Homo sapiens: one gene and its partners. The protein of the gene in region 1 purifies or fractionates together with the protein of each later gene. This does not show direct contact. Each region holds a gene or a part of one and is shown in the gene's direction. Other genes may lie near its edges.

Evidence for each region. The genes of interacting proteins can lie anywhere in the genome.
Region 2: the proteins of FGF4 (region 1) and TGFBR3 purify together in Homo sapiens (affinity purification with mass spectrometry; one large-scale study listed by BioGRID and IntAct). This does not show direct contact.
Region 3: the proteins of FGF4 (region 1) and ALDH1A1 purify together in Homo sapiens (affinity purification with mass spectrometry; one large-scale study listed by BioGRID and IntAct). This does not show direct contact.
Region 4: the proteins of FGF4 (region 1) and N4BP3 purify together in Homo sapiens (affinity purification with mass spectrometry; one large-scale study listed by BioGRID and IntAct). This does not show direct contact.

Annotation. Positions count from the first base shown.
Region 1 is NC_000011.10:69,772,542-69,776,668, reverse strand, and holds the start of FGF4 (fibroblast growth factor 4 precursor), read left to right. Parts: upstream 1-1,327; 5' UTR 1,328-1,584; coding exon 1,585-1,924; intron 1,925-2,541; coding exon 2,542-2,645; intron 2,646-3,183; coding exon 3,184-3,360; 3' UTR 3,361-4,127. UniProt on the Homo sapiens protein: Plays an important role in the regulation of embryonic development, cell proliferation, and cell differentiation. Required for normal limb and cardiac valve development during embryogenesis.
Region 2 is NC_000001.11:91,879,652-91,883,151, reverse strand, and holds part of TGFBR3 (transforming growth factor beta receptor type 3 isoform a precursor), read left to right. Parts: intron 1-3,500. UniProt on the Homo sapiens protein: Cell surface receptor that regulates diverse cellular processes including cell proliferation, differentiation, migration, and apoptosis.
Region 3 is NC_000009.12:72,922,054-72,925,553, reverse strand, and holds part of ALDH1A1 (aldehyde dehydrogenase 1A1), read left to right. Parts: coding exon 1-70; intron 71-1,421; coding exon 1,422-1,535; intron 1,536-3,500. UniProt on the Homo sapiens protein: Cytosolic dehydrogenase that catalyzes the irreversible oxidation of a wide range of aldehydes to their corresponding carboxylic acid.
Region 4 is NC_000005.10:178,112,308-178,116,331, forward strand, and holds the start of N4BP3 (NEDD4-binding protein 3), read left to right. Parts: upstream 1-1,224; 5' UTR 1,225-1,464; intron 1,465-2,458; exon of another isoform or gene 2,459-4,024.

The DNA of each region.
Region 1 (4,127 bases):
TGCCCAAGCAGGCTGCAGGCCCAAGGAGGAACAAAGATCCTCTCAAGGGGTGCGGAGCTGAGGTTCCGGTCCTGCCAAAGCCACTTGATGACCCCCAAGTGCCCCCCTTTCTGCACCTCAGAGAAGAGCCCTCAAGCCTCCCAGGTCCCCTCCAGGGGCACGAATAAGCCCCAGCAGGGTTCTGAAGGGGTCCCAGGAATCTCCCTGTGGGGATGCGGTGGAGGTGGAGGAGGCTGCGGTGGCCTGGGGACATCTCTGGTCACAGGTGCTGGTGGTATGAGAGATGGGGTAGGCACCAAGCCCCCTGCAGCTGTGGCTAGGCGGGCCTGCAGGAAGGGCCAGGCAGGCTCCTCAGGGACCACAAAGAACAGGGGTTTTCACACCTAGGTGGGCCTGCATCTAGCTAGGACAGTCCCCATCAGGCCATAATGGGCACAGTGGGAGGTAGAACCATGAGTGAGAGAGGGGAGGCTTCCAGAGGCCTGGCCTGGGTCCCTGCTAGATTGAGGGCTCTGGCTATGGTACATGGATATTTCTGCTGTGGAATCAAAGGAGCAGGGGATGCTGAATATCCCCTCTGGCCCTATGCCCTGCTACCTGTCCTTTCACGGAAGGGTGTGTGTGTAGGGGGTGCAGGACCAGGCCTCCCTGGGTGCATCTCTGCCACCTTGCCCTTTGGCTCAGGTGGACCTCCACCAGGTATTCAGAACTCCAGCCCAGAAACGCGCCAAGCCTGTGGGGCCAAGACCTAGGGGGTGGGGGTGGCCTCCCTCCCGCCTGTAGCCAAAGGGTCCTCCCTTGCCCAGCCAGGCCCCGGTGTCGCTTACTGCTCTTATCCACCCCTCCTTCCCAGGCCGGTCCTCAAGGCCCCAGCAAAGGAACCAAGTTCCCGTGAGCCTCCGAAAGGCGAAGGGCAGGCAGCAGCCGCTGGCTTCTGCGCCCACTAGGAGCTTCGGATGCCCGAGTTAGGGCTGCGCCAAGGCGGCCGGAGCAGAGAGGGAGACGGGGACGGGGACAGGCAGGGACAAAGTGCAAGAGGCAAAACTGGCTGAAAAGCAGAAGTGTAGGAGCCGCCAAGGGGCGGGACGAACAGGTCCGTGGGCCGGGCGGAGCCAAGGGTGGGGGCCGGGGTCCCTCCAGGTGGCACTCGCGGCGCTAGTCCCCAGCCTCCTCCCTTCCCCCGGCCCTGATTGGCAGGCGGCCTGCGACCAGCCGCGAACGCCACAGCGCCCCGGGCGCCCAGGAGAACGCGAACGGCCCCCCGCGGGAGCGGGCGAGTAGGAGGGGGCGCCGGGCTATATATATAGCGGCTCGGCCTCGGGCGGGCCTGGCGCTCAGGGAGGCGCGCACTGCTCCTCAGAGTCCCAGCTCCAGCCGCGCGCTTTCCGCCCGGCTCGCCGCTCCATGCAGCCGGGGTAGAGCCCGGCGCCCGGGGGCCCCGTCGCTTGCCTCCCGCACCTCCTCGGTTGCGCACTCCTGCCCGAGGTCGGCCGTGCGCTCCCGCGGGACGCCACAGGCGCAGCTCTGCCCCCCAGCTTCCCGGGCGCACTGACCGCCTGACCGACGCACGGCCCTCGGGCCGGGATGTCGGGGCCCGGGACGGCCGCGGTAGCGCTGCTCCCGGCGGTCCTGCTGGCCTTGCTGGCGCCCTGGGCGGGCCGAGGGGGCGCCGCCGCACCCACTGCACCCAACGGCACGCTGGAGGCCGAGCTGGAGCGCCGCTGGGAGAGCCTGGTGGCGCTCTCGTTGGCGCGCCTGCCGGTGGCAGCGCAGCCCAAGGAGGCGGCCGTCCAGAGCGGCGCCGGCGACTACCTGCTGGGCATCAAGCGGCTGCGGCGGCTCTACTGCAACGTGGGCATCGGCTTCCACCTCCAGGCGCTCCCCGACGGCCGCATCGGCGGCGCGCACGCGGACACCCGCGACAGTGAGTGGCGCGGCCAGGCGCGAAGGGGCGGGGGCGGGGGGCAACGGCCGCCGGGCCAACCCGCTCAGTCACACTCTGAGACCCTCGGCGGGCACCTGCTCGGGGGCCCCGGGAACCGGGGCGGACTCGGGCTCCGGTCCCTTCTGACGCGGGGCTGGGGACGCAGACACTCTTGGCTCCGGCAGCCCAGCGCAACCCCTGAGGTCGGGCGCCGCCTCCCGCCTTCAGAAACTCGGGCTCCGAGCGCCGAATTCCAGCGCCTTCGCCCGTGGGCACAGGGCGCGCGGTGCAGCCACAGGGGGCCCGAGACACGCGCCCCGGCCTGGCCCAGGCTGGGGAACCGCTGGGGTCGGGCTCGCGTCTGAAGGTCCGGGACTGGGTGCGGCCGCCGGGGGTCCCCTACACAGGCAAGCTAATCTGAGCTAGCGCAGGCTTGGGCTCCGGAGGCCCTAGAGGGCAGCTTGGGCTCTGGAGGCCCTTGGGGGCGGCTGCGCCGGGAACCCTGGCCCTTTATCCCCAACCCCACCCCAGAAATAGGGTCCCCGGAGGCGAACAAGCCGAGGGGCGGAGTGGGCCAGGGATCACCTGCCCCGCAATGACCTGCGCCCCGCCCCCAGGCCTGCTGGAGCTCTCGCCCGTGGAGCGGGGCGTGGTGAGCATCTTCGGCGTGGCCAGCCGGTTCTTCGTGGCCATGAGCAGCAAGGGCAAGCTCTATGGCTCGGTGAGTACCGCAGGGGTCTGGCTAGGCACCTAGTTGGGAACAGCGGACATGGCTAGCAGGCTCGTGGCTTCTCCAGCCCCACCTGTGCCTGGGTCTTGGAGGGGTGGCAGGGTCACCAGGTCACGGGACCGGCAGGCCTCCCCAGACAAAGGAAGCAGCCCCAAGGCAGGAACAATGAGGTTCCTGCCATCCCTGAGTGGGCCCCTCCCAGACCGAGGAAAGGGCGCTATTGAGAGCCCTTCCCTTCTCTAGTCCAGAGGGGTAGGTCTCAGTGTTGGAACTGCGGGCTTGAGGCTGGACACGGAGGGAATGAATTCTCTGGCTGCTAGGTGCAGGGCAGGTGGTGAGAGCACCAGCTGTTGTGGGCTGGCCATGTCCCCTTCTCACCCTGTGTGGGTCTTGACACCTTAACTGCTCAGCAGAGACATCTCAGCCCAGGGTGGGGGGTGGGACAGAAGGGGGTTCTGACCCCTGGCTTCAGGCTGGGTACCTTGCCCAAGAGGTGCCCCAGCCCTGACACTGCCCTGCTTTGCTGCAGCCCTTCTTCACCGATGAGTGCACGTTCAAGGAGATTCTCCTTCCCAACAACTACAACGCCTACGAGTCCTACAAGTACCCCGGCATGTTCATCGCCCTGAGCAAGAATGGGAAGACCAAGAAGGGGAACCGAGTGTCGCCCACCATGAAGGTCACCCACTTCCTCCCCAGGCTGTGACCCTCCAGAGGACCCTTGCCTCAGCCTCGGGAAGCCCCTGGGAGGGCAGTGCCGAGGGTCACCTTGGTGCACTTTCTTCGGATGAAGAGTTTAATGCAAGAGTAGGTGTAAGATATTTAAATTAATTATTTAAATGTGTATATATTGCCACCAAATTATTTATAGTTCTGCGGGTGTGTTTTTTAATTTTCTGGGGGGAAAAAAAGACAAAACAAAAAACCAACTCTGACTTTTCTGGTGCAACAGTGGAGAATCTTACCATTGGATTTCTTTAACTTGTCAAAAGTTGTCACGAGTGTGCTGCTATTCTGTGTTTTAAAAAAAGGTGACATTGGATTCCGATGTCATCCCCTGTAGTATGGCGTGGAGCATCTCTGTCTGGAAAGGCCCGCCTGAGGCTTGGGCAGCCAGTTCAGGGAGCTCCCAGGCTTGGCTCTCGGCTAGCATCCTCAGAGGCCCACTCCCTTTGTGCCCTGTTGCTATTAATCGGGACATATCGGTTTACTTCGGGTACAGAAAGTGCGGTGTTGAAGTCCTCGCTGCCACTCTGTTTTTAGATCTGCCAAGACTGACCTTTGAACTTTCCTGTAGTCAATCTTCCTCGATCTACCAGATGGGAGAGACCCTTGGACAACTTTATAAACTCCTGTTTGCCTTTTTTGGATCAGCGACAGCCCCCATCGCTGTGACTATTGGGGAAAAGACGAAGCTCTTTCATAAATTCCATGGAGAGGAATCAATATCCCACTGGAAGGCTAGAAATGGAC
Region 2 (3,500 bases), on another chromosome or scaffold:
TGGTTTGAATAATATTTCAACTTACCTGGGAGAAATGGAAATCCAGAGGAATTTGTTGTGAATCCTTTTGTAATGATCCTCATTTGTGTTTTGTAGAAAACTGAATATAATGAATTTGTTCTCAGGGAGGTTGGTGTGTTCACAATCCTGTCATCATCTTTCATTAACATCTTCTAAGTGCAAGACAATAGGGGATCAGTAATCCTAAATAACAGCAGTTCTATTACTGTGAATTCCTCAGAGGCTTACGTTAATATTCAAGTATAGTAGTAGTTCAGATGTATCATATTTGATACTAGTATAAGTGTGATGTGTCTATGAATACTCATACTTGTAAACATAAACAATAAGAATATGCTTGAAAAAATCACACTTGACATTTATCTATTTATTTATTTATTTTTTGAGATGGAGTCTCTCGCTCTGTCGCCCGGGCGGGAGTGCAGTGGTGCAATCTCAGCTCACTGCAAGCTCCACCTCCCAGGTTCACGCCATTCTCCTGCCTCAGCCTCCCCAGCAGCTGTAACTACAGGCACTCGCCACCATGCCCGGCTAATTTTTTTGTATTTTTAGTAGAGACGGGGTTTCACCGTGTTAGCCAGGAAGGTCTCGATCTCCTGACCTTGTGATCCGCCTACCTCAGCCTCCCAAAGTGCTGGGATTACAGGCGTGAGCCACGGTGCCTGGCCAAACTTGACTTTTAAAAAAAGTTTTTGGCTGGGTGTGGTGGCTCACGCCTGTAATCCCAGCATGTTGGGAGGCCGAGGCAGGTGGATCACTTGAGGTCAGGAGTTCGAGACCAGCCTGGCCAACATGGCGAAACCTGATCTCTACAGAAAATACAACAATTTGCTGAGCGTGGTGGTGCACACCTGTAATCACAGCTACTCCAGAGGCTGAGGTGGGAGGATCCCTTGAGCCCAGGAGGTGGAGGTTTCAGTGAGCTGAGATCGTGCCACTGCACGCCAGCCTGGCAGACAGCGAGGTTCTGTCTCAAAAAAAAAAAAAAAAAAGGTTTTCAATTTTTGTCTGTAGTTTTGTAGGCCAGTTTCCTTTCTTGTTTCTTGCGTATTATGTAGTATTTTTTTATTATTTATTTATTTATTTATTTTTGAGACAAAGTTTCGCTCTGTCGTCCAGGCTGGAGTGCAGTGGAGTGATCTTGGCTCACTGCAACCTCCGCCTCCCAGGTTCAAGAGATTCTCCTGCCTCAGCCTCCCGAGTAGCGGGGACCACAGGTGCATGCCACCACGCCCGACTAATTTTTTATATTTTTCGTAGAGACGGGGCTTCACTGTGTTAGCCCCGATGGTCTTGATCTCCTGACCTCATGATCCACCCGCCTCGGCCTCCCAAAGTGCTGGGATTATAGGCGTGAGCGACTGTGCCCGGCCCCATATTATGTAGTATTGATTTACCTTTATTTCATTTACTACGTTAGGGTCCCATGGATCCTATTTTAAAATAACTTTCAAAATTAGTTGAGTCCCTTCTTTTTAAATCTTAGCATTGCGCTTATACTACAGAGTGGCATTTATTTAGGATCTCATTTAGTCTTCTATGCTTTGCTCTAGTTTACTCGAGTAATTCAACAAACACTTATAACCTCCTACTCCCTACTAGGCTATGGTTTCTGGTCTTGGAGCTTGGCAAATTAATTGTCCTTATTCAGTGCTCTGATGACTGGGGGCCAAAATGCCTTCAGGTTGCTTAGGGCTTTCTTACAGAAAGCCTTTCGTTGGCTTGAAGGAAAGTGTTGTTCCATTGTTTTTAAGACTCAAAAGAATTAATTTTTCTCTCTTGCATGCAAACTTGGTTGTGACTTGTAAAAGTCAGGTGAGTGCTTGTTTTTCTGAGGGCAGAATCTGAGCCTAAGAGCCCAGGGAACTCAACTGTCCTTTGAGTTTTAAGAAGGTGATCACTGCTGACTTCTTTAGTATATAAGTGAAGACCAATTTCCTGGCTTCAAAAATCTGTGAAAGGTCCTGACTTTACATTTTAAGCTTAACAGACAGAACAGTTAGAGTTTAGACTGTGACTGTGTAAGTAATAACTTTGCTGTAATATTTTGCCTGGATGATTCTGCTCTGTGGTCATTTTGAATTACCTCCCTTCTTGATAGTTCATTTTGAAACATCTTTTTGTGGTGCTTTCATTGCTGTTGGATAAAAATTGTAATTGTCAGATTTATTTTTTATTTTTATTTATATACTTATTCATATAAAATATGTAAATATATGTAAAATCTCACATATATATAATCTATAACTATATATTGTATAATATATAATATGTATATATTTTGAGACAGAGTCTTACTATGTTGCCTCGGCTGGTCTCGAACTCCTGGGCTCAAGTGATCCTCCTGCCTCATCTTCTCAAATTGTTGGGATTACAGGCATGAGCCACTGCTCCTGGCTGTCAGATTTATTAGCTACTAAAGGACAGTCTTCTTTTTCAGTCTTAACAGTTACTTAAAAGTGATTTTATTGCCATTTCCATCAGTCTACTGGAGCATTTTTCTTATATTTTTATTTTTATTTTTATTTTTTTTGGGACGGAGTCTCGCTCTGTCACCCAGGGTGGAGTGCAGTGGCGCGATCTCGGCTCACTGCAAGCTCCGCCTCCCTGGTTCACGCCATTCTCTTGCCTCAGTCTCCCGAGTAGCTGAGACTACAGGCGCCCGCCACCACGCCCAGCTAATTTTTGTATTTTTAGTAGAGACAGGGTTTCACCGTGTTAGCTAGGATGGTCTCAATCTCCTGACCTCGTGATCCGCCGTCTTGGCCTCCCAACGTGCTGGGATTACAGGTGTGAGCCATCGCGCCCGGCCATATTTTTAAACTTATTTAAAACAATTGTAAATTTAAAAAATGTTAACTTTTTTGAAATTTGCATAACTTGAGTTAGATAAATGTTTTTAGGGGCCTTTAATGTAAAAGCAGTCTTGTATTGCCACTAGGAATATAAGCAATTTGGAATTTAAGAGTGAATCTAGGTTATATGAAAAGCTAACCTTAAACACATAATAGTGAGCCTTCAGCAGATTGAGTGAGGGCATTTCTGTAGGAAGAAAATTAAGTGTACCAAGAGCCATAGCAGTAACTTCTCTGGTTCTGCATCTTCAGAGTAACACTTGGAATGATAGCATTGTTTCTTTGCAGCATGTCATAAAACACAAGCTGTTGCTAATTTGTTCAGTGTCTAGTCAAGCTGAAATAAATCAACACAGCTTGGAAGGGCCTTACAAGAAGGATCTGGGTTCATTTCCTGGGCTCTGTCCAGGAAATATAGAAATATAATAAATAAATCTAGGAATATAAAATTTCTAGATTTCTTATTTTATATCTTTTGAAATAGCACATTTGTTTGTTAACTGACATTGAGCTTTATTTTCTCTGCTTGCAAAGTCCTTGCTTAAGAATCAGCACAAATTTCCAAGCATTCTTCCTCCCCACTTGAATAATGATTTTGATGTCTTGCTCTCTCAACCAAAATGT
Region 3 (3,500 bases), on another chromosome or scaffold:
CACAGTGGTTGTCAAACCAGCAGAGCAAACTCCTCTCACTGCTCTCCACGTGGCATCTTTAATAAAAGAGGTAAGTCTCCCGAAATCAAAATATGCTCAAGAACTCAAGAATCCTAAATTACAATAGGAAGACCTCATTTGTTGCTACTATAAAGTACATTATTTACAGATGGCTCCTGTCCAGTGGGGGGAATACATTTAGCATGACGGCTGGCTGCAATTTCTGGCAGTCACCCCAAATTCATCTCTGCCCAAATGCAGACAGGAAGCCAAACACAAAGGTTTGGTGTCAAACAGTCAACTTGGGATCACATTTTTGCTTCTTTGTCCAACTCTCATGAACATAAATTCATGTTGAAATTAATGTAGCATTCTTTCAAATGTTGAAACATTAAGTTGGTTTGTACCTGCCACTGATGGCCTAGTGTTTTCTGCAAAATTGTGTAAACTAATCTATGTAAGGTTGAAAGGGCCTCTATGCCAATATGCTTGTTTGTAATATTGGGCCACATTATTTCCAAACACTTTTCAATCTACTCATGAGTGGATATGTTTATATTCAGTTTTCTATTATGAGTTCCTCTGCATTTATCTTCCTGTTCAAAAACAGTAAAAGAACATGTAAAACATTTTCATCAGCTATCTAGATTGTGTTAATATACTTGCAAACAATTCATTGTCCTTTTTTCTTCATCTTACCAAATCTTAAAAAATAAATGTTAATCACTAGAAACTTAAAGTTACAAAACTGAACTTATCTTTTAAAGATATTATTTATTGAAATTAAAAACAGGGAAAAGAGATGTCAAAATGAAACATTTCGATGCAAATAACATGAAATTGTAATGTGCCCAACTCAGTTCCCATGCCTTCACCTGAATTCTTTAATGAAGATTGAAATCAACCTGTGATGTTGAATCATGAATGGGATGACAGTATTTACTTAACAATTTACTAAGTAATGCCAATGGGAATTTGCAACTCAGCAGTTATGCCCTCAACAATCAACAACAGCTAGGAACTAAAAAATGTTAGATCCCTTCAGCTTCTTATTTTTGCTGATGGGAATAATAAACATGTTACTTACTTTCTACATAAGTAACTTACCAAACACTTTTTTACATACAATCTTTTTGAGTTAGCATTATGAAATTTGAAAGAGCCATCACTGGAGCAATGATTCATAGAGTATGGACTTACCCTGACAAGAAATTGTCCTTTAATAATGCAACCCTTGAAGTTATTCTCTTATGTGTGCTTAGAAATGACATAATAAGACTAAAGAATAGAGCCAGTTGGGTGAATTATTTTTTTCTAGAGCATCTCATAAGGTTGGCATTAAGAGACAATCTCAATCCCCTACTCTCCTCCTTTTTGAATTAAATTCTTATACTGTAACTTTTAAACTTTTTATCTTTTAGGCAGGGTTTCCTCCTGGAGTAGTGAATATTGTTCCTGGTTATGGGCCTACAGCAGGGGCAGCCATTTCTTCTCACATGGATATAGACAAAGTAGCCTTCACAGGATCAACAGAGGTAATATTATTTACTCAGGGCAAAAGTTAAGAATGTCTGCATTGCCAGCTATGAAGTATGTTTTATGTAACTATTTTTGAGCCAACAATTTTAAAACAAAAACTCTTTTTAATGATTTGTTACTTATTTTAGCCTTCAAACATATGGATAGAATATAAGCAGATGTAGTTTGAATGACATGATGCACCTATTTTAAATCAGAATGAGAGTAAACTATTTTTAGTATGTTCATTACTTTCTCTGACGAGAAATATGGCTGCTGAGACCTTGTCATATTATTAGGAAGATTTATAATAGAAAATTAGGCCATAGTGATTTGTATGAATGAATATGATTTTATCCTATAGGTTATGAAAATTAAATAGTAGAGTCTCACCCTTTGCACCTTATTTGGGGTTGTCTTTCTCCTGGACACTGTGAAAGAGAGCCAGAAACTCAGCTTCCCTCAGTGGTACCTAGACTAACTTTTCTGCCTCTCTGGCTTGAACTTGACCATCCTAAAGGTTAAAGAAAAAGACCCCAACCACAAAGGAGAAGTGGCGGGCAGGAGGGAGAGCAGACTAGAAGGTGAAGTTTGGGAAAATAGATCCCCATTTATTGATGATGTTCTATCCTAAGCAAAAGAAAGTGGTGGAAGCATACTGTACCATGCAAAAAAAATTATTGAGTCATTCTATTAAATTACGTGACTTTGTTAGATGCTCAGTGCAAAAATGTTATTCATTGGTACACAGTATAGACAGTGAAGAGTGAGCTTCACTCCATCTTAGAAAGCTGCTGACAACAAGAGACCAGGCAGGGTGTGATAAGGTACTAAGGCATGTACAAAATGCTGTAAAAAAGGTTCACAAGAAGGAATGATGATGTCCAAATGGGTACTAGAACTAGCTCTGGGTTTTGAGGAATTGTTACTTTTTTAACTTCCTGGAAGTTGAGAAGCAAAAAAGACATTCCAGATAGTGTGGTGAGCATAATTTGATTATTTTATAATCTTAATTATTTACTCCAGAATAAAGGCAAATTTACATAGCAAAAAGAAATGGTGGAAAATCAAACTTTATTTTTCTTGGTCTTTTTAAAATGAAGTAAATAAATATATATATGTCTTCTTTGTTTTTCACAGACGTAGAGTAAAAAAAGTTTGCATTCTGCAACTCCCTAATTGAGATAGGGAAAAGCAAACCCCACAGTCAAGATTTATTGTAGACAGAACAAGTGGGAATGTTCAAGATATGGCAATACATTTAAAAATGGTGACACCACAGGTTGAAATCATACCAGAGGAATAAAGGTGAAAATTCCTCAGCCTAGAATTCTAGACCCTCCCCAATAGGGAATCCATGTGCCTGTTGAGGTCTGTCCAACCCATGGCCAGGGATGGCTTTGAATGTAGCCCGACACATTTTTTTTTCATTCTCATCAGCTATCTTTACTGTTAGTGTATTTTTTGTGTGGCCCAAGACAATTCTTCTTCCCATGTAGCCCAGGGAAGCCAAAAGATTGAACAACCCTGGTCTAGATCCTATGCCTACTCCTTCTCCAGGTCATCTGGACCAGGAGCTACTGTTTGCTGATCTCATCTTCAGCATCAGTTTGTCTTCGCTCATCCATGATCCCCTATAACATTGGGGGAGCACTTTACCTACTTAAAAAAATCCCTGGAGATTAAAAGTCTAGAAAATATCTTGGTTTAAATTCTGACTCTACCCCTCCTAGCAGTGTGTCTTTAAAAAGTTAAGTAGCCTTACTAAATTTGAGTTTCTTCATTTGTAAAATGGAGATGAGATCAAATTTACTGAGTTGTACAGAATACAATTAAATGAGCTAATGAGTAGTAAAACATTTATCACCCTACTGAGCGCTCAGTACATGCCATATTTCCTCTTTCCTCCCATACTTTTTAATTTCGCACACTAGTTTACACAATGTGAGAAAAAAGCTTCCTGTCCCAATATTTCTTTTTCT
Region 4 (4,024 bases), on another chromosome or scaffold:
TTTGAGACAGGCTTACGCCATCATCCAGGCTGGAGTGTAGTGGCACAATCTCCGTTCATTGCAACTCTGCCTCCTGGGTTCAAGCAATTCTCCTACCTTAGCCTCCCGAGTAGCTGGGATTACAGGCTCGCTCCACCATGCCTGGCTAATGTTTGGTGTTTTTGGTAGAGATAGAATTTCGCCATGTTGGCCAGGCTGGTCTCAAACTCCTGACCTCAAGTGAGCCGCCTGCCTCGGCCTCCCAAAATGCTAGGATTACAGGGGTGAGCCACCACATCAGGTCTTTTTTTTTTTAAGATAGAGATGGAGTTTTGTGAGTTGCCCAGGCTGTTCCTGAACTCCTGGCCTCCAAAAGTGCTGGGAGAGTTCAGACATGAGTCATCACATGGCGTTCATTTCTTTTTTATGGCTGAATAATATTCCACTGAATGGATCTACCATTGTTTGCTTACACCCTCATCAATTGTTAGTTTGGGCTGTTTCCACCTTTTGGCTCTTTGACTATTGTGACTAGTACTGCCAAGAACATTACTTGTTTGAGGACTATAATTGCCGGATCATATGGTAACTCTATGCTTAACTTTTGAATTAGAAACGGTGTTTTAATTTTTCGAATATGACTCCTTTACGTGTCTGTGTCTGTTTCCATGTCTTCCTACTGTCTTAGTAGGAAGCTCACGACTCATTTGCGTAATTTTTCTGGCCCCTGAAGGCACCTGATTTTGCTGCCCCTAGAATACTTTGGAGGCAAAAAGAAAATAACTCTGTGCCCAATTCAGCCAGAGTCGTGGGGTAAAATCTTTTCACTTCTCAAAGTACTACTGTGGTTCATCCCCAAAGGGGGGAAATCAGGTTTTCCGGAGAGGAGGCGGCTACAATTAGGGAGGTGAGGGACCTCACGCGCCTCTTCCTTAGAGGAGGCGGGCGAGGCGAACGGCGGAGGAGGAGAAGCGGGGGCGCTGTGCGCTCTCTGGGGCGTGGGCCGCGCTCGGGGCTGCCCACCCCTCGGGAACGAGCCGGGGCGCTCAAGGAGGCAGCGACGCGAGGCGCAGCCGGTCCAGGTTTCGCCCGCCACCGCCGTGCGGCGCCTCTGCGGGTCAGGGCCGGGGGCGCGGTCGGGGCCGGGCGGGGCCCAGGTTGGCTCGCGGGTAGGCGGCCCCGCCCCCCACATCCGGGGGCCGGGGCCGGGCTGTGGGCTTGCCGCGCGCCGGTGAGTCAGGCCGGGTTTTCCCTCCGCCTTTGGGGCAGGCGATCGAGCGCCGCGGAGCGCGTCCCTCCCTCGCCAATCCGGCTCCGGCGCCGGCGCCCGCCCGCGTTTTCCCGGCGCCTGCCGCTCCGCCGCTCCGACCCGGCACGCAGTCCCGGCCCGAGCCGACGCCTTGCAGGAGGGTTCAAATCCGCGCGGGGGAGCTGCGACGCGCAAGGGCTGCGGAGCCGCGGGCCGGCGAGCGCGTCGCCACCATGGTAAGTGGGGCGCGCGAGGGGCTGGGGACCCGGGCTGGACTCGGGGGGTGGGGAGGGGTGGGGCGGGTCGCCAAGGTCTTGTTTTCGGGCGTCCTTGGCAAAGCTGCTGTCCCGCTGGCCGAGGCTCCCGTCTGAGAGATGGGCGGGGGTGGCAAGGTGCGGCGTGCGCCCAGGTGTCCCCTGCTCCCGGTCACCGAGGCACCGGATCGGGGACCGACCCCGATGCTCCGCTGGAGGGGCAGGCGGCAGGCTACCTTGCTCTCCCCAACCCCTGCAAACGCGCTTTCCAGGGAGCAGCGCGCGGGACCCCTGCGCCACGGCTGGGTGGGGCAGGCGTCCTTGGCGCCGGCGTCTGACCTCGGCCTCCGCCCCCCGGCCCAGCCGCTCCCGGCAGGCCTCAGGGAGGGGCCAGGAGGAGACGCGCCTCCCACCCCGCCCCCCAGGTAGCTCCGGGACCTCCCGCAGCTTTGGGGAACCCTCGCCTTCACCCCTGCTTTCCTGACACAAATTCCGTGGGGATGCAACCTCGTTTGCCCCTCTGACTTCCCCATGAGATCTCTCGCTTCCTCCCACACCTCCTTTATCCCCCAACCCCCTGCCGGTCCACCAGGCTGCAGCTGCGGGTCTGCGGGTAGGGGACATTCCTAGGTCTTGACCGCCAGAGCACCCGGTCCAGTCCCGGCCACAGCCTTTGGCCCAAGTGAGGGCTGGCCTGGGGACAAGCCGAAATCAGGGCCCTGGCTGTATCCAGAAAGAGAACTGAGACCCGTTGCCTCCCACTGGGCCACCCCCCGACCCCAACCACATAGGAACAGATTGGGCCTGGCTGTCCTCGGGAGGGAGCGGACGCAGGAGGCCATCCTGGGCGCGGTTATCAGCCTCCTCCCAGGGCCCTCCCAGGCAGGGCTTCTCTACCGGCTGGCAGCGTGTGGTGTGCATGTGCCAGACTGTGAATGAATGCGGCCAGCCTGCCTCTGCCACCGCCTCTAGAGCTAGCATAGCGACTCGGAGTCCCCATGAGGCAGGTTTCCTCTATTTCTTCCTGACCTGGGGGGCAGCAGGAGGGATTCCAGGCCTGGTGGACCGCAGTCTAGGGCAGCCTGGTTGCAAGTGTCCTTGGGAGAAACAGGCATGGAGGGCTGGGCAGACATATATGCAATACATACACAGCAGTGTGTGCCCATGGAGGGGAACCCGTGACCCCTGGCTTAGGACAACCTGCTGAGGTAGAAAGGACCTTGCCCAGGGAGTTGAGATTGCTTCTCACTGTGGGATCTTGGATAACTCACCTCGCCTTCCGAGGCCTCAGTTTCCCGATCTGTAAAATGGCGTGAGGGTAATTACTGTCCTGTTTGCCCCCACGAGGCTATTGTGGAGATGAAATGAGATAATGAAATAGAAGGGCTGAGAAAAAACTGTAGACTGCGGTGCAGCCGTGAAGCACTATATGGTGATACTAAGCACCACTTCCGCAGGCTTTAGCCCCTGTCTCTGCCTCAAGTGTCTGTCACAGAGGGGATGGGGTGGGCCAGCCTCTCCCAGCCCCTCTCTGGGCCCCCCTTGCCTACTACCCCCCCCTTTTGGAGCTGGGACATTCCAGTCCCATTCCTTAGGGGCAGCTGCAGACACGCCCCTTAGCAGAGCTGATCCCCCAGCAGGTGGTGGGACCTTTCCCTGGGGCCAGGGCTCAGGAGGGGCTGACTGTAGCCAGGGCAGGCAGCACTCCTGCCCATGTGGGGACTGGAATGTCCCACCCCAGAGGAGATGCAAGGTGGGATCCGAGAGGACTTCTAATCCTGGAGCCTGTGTGCTTTCTCCCCTGCGGCTGAACGTGACCTTAGGCGTGTTACTTCACTTTCTGAACCTCAGTTTCCTCTTGTGAAGTGGGGGATGACAGAACTCATCTCCTGTGTGTCTTGTGAGGATGTGATAGTGCCCTTTGGCGTGACCCAAAAGGGCACCAACAGGCTCTGGGACGCCCCCCTCAAAGAAAGCGCGTCCTCTCCTTCTTTGCTTCCTGGCCAGGGCAGCTGTGTCTTCCATCTCCACCAAGGATTGGTCCGAAAGCAATTCCTCTCCGTGTTCAGAGATTCCAGTGCTGCCTGCTAATCTTGGGGACTGGAGAGGGGTGAGGGGACTGGTGGCGGGGAGCAGGAGTGAAGAGGCCTTACTGGGGCTAGCCAGGACCTGTGGAGAATGTGGCTTGAATGTCCCAGCCCAAATCTAGCCAGCTGTGTGGCTGGGGGTTTGCCGCTCCCAGCTCAGGGAAGCCCAGGCACTTGGCTTGTCCCCTACCCTTCTCTCCACGACCCGTGCAGGGTCCCCGGCTTTTTGCTCTGATGTTCCAGTGAGGCTGCAAGGCACTTGCTGTCCTCCCTCCCTCCTCCCCCACCAAATCCCCTCCGCCTGCACAGCTGCCCTGCCCAGCTGCCCTGCCCGGAGCAGGCAATCCCTGGGCTTCCAAGCAACAGGAAGGAAGGAATGTATGTGTTGGGGGAGGGGGTGGAGGTAGGATGGACCCCTTTAGGAAAAGAGACTGTCCCCACTCTGTGACATACGC